2 separate regions of the Homo sapiens genome follow, and region 1 is linked to region 2. The links come from fine-mapping of genetic effects on gene expression. Tissue or cell type: whole blood. Region 2 holds a variant in brackets; the other region holds the start of a gene. All regions are shown on one strand. Distances are between the middles of the regions.

Evidence for each region. PIP is the estimated chance that this variant, and not a neighbour inherited with it, causes the effect.
Region 1: it holds the start of NAIP, and the variant in region 2 is fine-mapped to the expression of NAIP in whole blood (INTERVAL, PIP above 0.99).

What each region holds. Positions count from the first base shown.
Region 1 is chr5:71,024,135-71,026,825 of GRCh38, reverse strand. It overlaps NAIP (NLR family apoptosis inhibitory protein), which reads left to right and starts at 1,487. Exons shown (of 17, transcript NM_004536.3): 1 at 1,487-2,211; 2 at 2,420-2,508. RefSeq lists cis regulatory regions at 1-1,358, 1,724-1,937 and promoters at 1,359-1,723, 1,128-2,691.
Region 2 is chr5:70,676,391-70,679,081 of GRCh38, reverse strand. The region is part of intron 3 of LOC107986355 (a long non-coding RNA gene); the gene reads left to right. Among named protein-coding and RNA genes, the nearest start is that of SERF1A, 220 kb to the left of the region's middle. The variant A/G (reference allele first, on the strand shown) is at 1,511.

The DNA of each region.
Region 1 (2,691 bases), 350 kb before region 2:
AAATTAGCTGGGCGTGGTGGTGGGCGCCTGTAATCCCAGCTACTCGGGAGGCTGAGGCAGGGGAATCGCTTGAACCCAGGAGGCGGAGGTTGCAGTGAGCTGAGATTGTGCCACTGCACTCCAGCCTGGGCGGCAGAGCGAGACTCTGTCTTTTAAAAAAAAAGAAAAATATTTAATTACCTTACCAAAGAAGATACATGAATGACCAATAAGCCATTAAATTAAAACTTCAGTGAGTATACACATATGCCCTGAAGTAGCTAAACTTTAAAACACTGCCCTATGTGTGTGTACTTTTTAGCTAAAAAAGTGTTTGAAAACAGTATTATTTTGAAACTCAAAATTCCAAATCCTCTCTTCAAATTAGGTAGTAGTGTCACTGGAAGTAAAAGAGAAGTTACTTTAACTGCTAAAGAGTATCCACTAAGAATCTACATCAAACATCATGTTTAATGCTCAAACTTTAGAAGAATTTATACCAAAAGTCAAGAATAAGATAGGATATCTATCTTCATTATTAAGCAACATTATATTAGAGGACCTAATCAATGCAACAAGGCAATAAATAAAAGACAAAACTGTCATAATCAGATACTACAAACATCTAAGAAAATTCAGGGGGATTTACAGTCATATATTAAACAGTCCAGAAGGAGTCCTATACATCATCAATGAATATTGAGAATAAAAAATAGTTTTTAAAACCCCTCCAATTTATAAGGGCAACAAAATGTACAAGGTACTAAAATAAATGTAATGTGTATTTGGGTATAAATACAGCAACATAATGAAAAGGTTTATTGGGGAAAAAATTACAGGGAGAAGGGTCAACAACGTGAAGAGGTTCCCCTGCCATCTGGACTTCTGGAAAAAGACCTGCTGGTCTAGGCACAGCTGGATGCACCATGGAAAGTGGTTCCAATAAACACTGGCACTGTAACAATTGTGTATGTTGATACAAAAAGAGGGAGCCAATGAATACTTGGTCGATTATTTAACAATTGCTTCTCTGCTGAAGAAATGGCCTTGTTGGACTAGAGCTTAACTGTGGTTCACATACTAATGCTGCTATAACAGCTAGAAGCCTTACTAAGAAATTTGCTAAACCACCAAAAAGAGGAAATGAACCTTCTAGGATATCTGGATTGCCTTTTCTTAAAAATCTAGTCTTGGCTGGGTGCTGTGGTTCACGCCTGTAATCCCAGCATTTGGTGAGGCCGAAGTGGGCGGATCACGAGGTCAAGAGATCGAGACCATCCTGGTCAACATGGTGAAACCCTGTCTCTACTGAAAATACAAAAATTAGCTGGGCGAGGTGGCATGTGCCTGTAGTCCCAGCTGCTGGGGAGGCTGAGGAAGGAGAATCACTTGAACCCAGGAGGCTGGGTTTGCAGTGAGCTGAGATCACGCCATTGCACTCCAGCCTGGCAACAGAGCAAGACTCAGTCTAAAAAAAAAAAAAATATATCTAGTCTGTATGGCAGCACAACATCAGGTAAAAGTACAGACTAGCCAGATCACTGGTTAACCTTAACCCCTATGTGCTTGAGTTTCCTTATCTGTAATATGGAGATGATATAGCAATAGCTGATTTTGGACTGTTAAAGGAATTAAGTGGACACATGTAAAGTGCTTAGAATTGTGCCTGGCAAGTAGTAGGCTGCAATATTGTGATATAATAAATATATATATTTGATCTTCATCCAGTTCCTGGCACAGATCTCCAGAAACCCTTGTAATTTCCTGAGTGACAGGGGTGATAGAAACATCTTTTATTAGAATACTTGGTCTTGGTTCCTGACACAAGAGCTTCTAAGACCTTTGGAATCTCCAAGTGATAAGAGTGTATGACAGTGAGCTAACTGGTGGCTGGGATCCTTTAGACAACTTCAGGATGGGGGCTATCCCCTGAAAGACTAAGGCATGATTAGAGGTCTGGGATTTGCAGCCCCACGCCTCGACCTCCAGAGAGGGTAAAAGGGCTGGAGATTGATTAACCACCAGTTGCCAGTGATTTAACCAATCATGCCTAAGTGATGGCACCTCCATTAAAAAATAAACCACAGGTTTGGAGAGCTTTCGGTTTGGTTAACCCCAACCACATACCAAGAAGGCGATGCACCTCAAACTGCATGAAGACAAAAGGTCCTGTGCTCACCTGGGACCCTTCTGGACGTTGCCCTGTGTACCTCTTCGACTGCCTGTTCATCTGTATCCTTTATAATAAAGCAGTAAACATAAGTAAAGTTTCTGAGTTCTGTGAGCCATTATAAGAAACGATCGAACCTGGGATTTTCCTTTCGGAAGCCGCTCTCTCTCACAAGGGAGAGAGCTGTTCTCCTTTTTCTTTTGCGTGTTAAACCTCCGCTCCTAAACCCACTCTTCGTGTGTATCGTGTCCTTAACCTTGTTGGTGCGAGACGACGAACCCCGGGTATTGACCCCAGACAACAATGCCACTTCATATTGGGGACTTCGTCTGGGATTCCAAGGTGCATTCATTGCAAAGGTGAGTAAAGGGGCGGACCTCAACTCTGTCCTTTGATTTCGAGGCTCTTGGCCTCCATTTTAGAATCAAACCAAACCAAATACTGGGCCCCCTTCTGCTTCTGTGAATGAGAAAACTCTGCCTTCACCAATTAGCCATTTAAAAATTATGAGCGTGGCTGCCAGCCTTACAAGTTTTGGGGGA
Region 2 (2,691 bases):
CAAATTGATTTTTCTTTGTGTGCACTCATCAGTGTAAATACAATTAAGTAATAAAGCCTGTACTTGTTCAGGAAAGATGTTTTCTATTCATAGTCTGATATCTGGGTGCTTTGGTTTCTGATAATTTGTTATGTAAAAACCCTGCAAATTAAAAAAAAAAAAATCAGCAGCTCCAAGTTCATGGGCCCTTATCACAGAGGATTTAAAACCTGTGCATTTTCTTTAAACTGAGAATATTATTACATTTTTTAATCCAGTGATGAGACCATAATAGTTTTCTGAAATAATTCAGAATAATTATATACCTAAAAGTTAATTTGCATGTGCTGTAATTTAAATAAAAGGACAGTTAATTTTTGCATTACAAAACATGAAAAATAAAATCAAACGTTGCATCTTTACTTTTATTACATAAATTCCTTTACATTGTAGTGCCCCCTAGCACCACGCAAGTTTATAAACTGCTTTCAATATTAATTATGTTATTATAATAATAACTAATTTAAGAATGTATTATTAAAGTCAGTAATTTAATAATAATAATTTCAATAATATATGTGTCACAAAAATACCTGAAATTACAATTAGTATGTCCGGTTTACTGATGGGAATACTGTGGCTCAAAAACATCATCTCAGGCAGGGTGTGGTGGCTAACTCATGTAATCCCAGCACTTTGGGGGTCCAAAGCAGGTGGATCGCCTGAGATCAGGAGTTTGAGACCAGCCTGGCCAACATGGTGAAACCTCATCTCTACTAAAGTACAAAACCGGTCCGGCATGGTGGTGCACACCTGTAATCCCAGCTACTCGGGGGGCTGAGGCAGGAGAATCACTTGAACCCATGAGGAGGAGGTTGCAGTGAGCCAAGATCACACCACTGCCCTCTAGTCTGGGTGACAGAGCGAGAGTCCTTCTCAAAAAAAAAAAAAAAAATCATCTCACCCAAATCATGTAGCTACAAAGTTATGGTTTAGAATAATTCAACTATTTTACTGAAATCAAAACTTTTACTATTAACCAATCAGTTACACTCAGCTTTGTGTAACTGAATACCAAATAACATCATGTTCCAGTAATTTTCATTTGAGTGAGAAGGGAGCACACTGGTACCCTGGACACACCCAGATACACTAAATCAGAACCTCTAAAACTTGGTGACTGTAAAAATAATTTTATTCTGAGTCTGAAACATATGCTCCGTGTTTCTTAGCAAGTTTCTGCAGCACAGGAGTCAGGTGAGGGAAGGTAGCGCCCCACTCCTGGTTATGGAAGGCAGAGGGTGAGTTCTGCTGCACATATGAAGCTATGGAGAGAGCAAGACTGCATAGGAGCAGGGTACAGTCTCTGGATATAGAAGACAGATAAACCTGGGTTATAGTTGACCCAGTGGAAAATTATAGGCCAAGAATAAGTTTCCAGATACCTTAATAGAACTGGGCATTTGATAAATTTTGAAAGTTCTCTGATAACTCGTATGTGCAGTGTAGGCTAAGAACTCACGGAAACAAT[A/G]TAGACATTTTTTGCCTCTCAGGGATATGCAGACACCCCAGTTCAGATATGATGTCTTCATGATCATCAGAAATCCAGATGGCTATTATCTTGTTGCTTTGCACCTCCAAGTACTGCTGCTTCTCATGTTGCCCCATGGCTGCCCCAGATCTAGCCATCAGAGCTGCCTTTCCAAGAAGGAAGAAAGCACAGAGATAGGACATGCCCCCTGCATGTAAGTCAGCTTCTCAGAAGTTACACGCGTTACTTCCCCTTACACAACATAGGTCAGAAATTGGTCACATGTGTCATGCCCTATGTTAAGAAAAGATTGGGAATATAGCATTTATTCCTGGTGATCATGTGTCCGGCTAAGCATTAGAGGACATTTTTACTGATGGCGAAAGGGTCAATGGAGATTGCAGTGAACCAGCCATCTCTGTCCAATAGGCACTTTATTTGGTGACGATAATTATAGGAAAGGTAGCACCAGACAGTTTTAATTCATTGAAGTTATTTTGGGTTTTTCTTGTTAATTTGTTTGTTTGCTTATTTGTTTTATCCTTCAGAGAAATGCTAGAAATTTAGTAATTAAATTAAATATTTCATTGAACACAAAAGCATAACATTATGGAAAAGAGTAACTGTTGTTTGGTTTTATTTATATATGTTAGTGTTTATACTGACTAATCTCACCAATGGAGACAGACAATTTCTAAGATTTATTATAGGCATTGTGTTTGGATCTTTCTTTCAGAAAAGTAAAAATCAGCTTAACCCAAAAATTATTTTAATAATAATTGGCATATCCAGCTTCATCCATGTCCCTACAGCGGACATGAACTCATACATTTTTATGTCTGCATAGTATTCCCATGGTGTATATGTGCCACATTTTCTTAATCCAGTCTATCATGGATGGACATTTGGGTTGGTTCCAAGTCTTTGCTATTGTGAATAGTGCCGCAATAAACATATGTGTGCATGTGTCTTTATAGCAGCATGATTTATAATCCTTTGGGTATATATCCAGTAATGGGATGGCTGGGTCAAATGGTTTTTCCAGTTCTAGAAGCTGGAAACCATCATTCTGAGCAAACTATCGCAAGGACAGAAAACCAAACACCGCATATCCTCACTCATAGGTGCAAATTGAACAATGAGAACACCTGGACACAGGGTGGGGAACACGACACACCAGA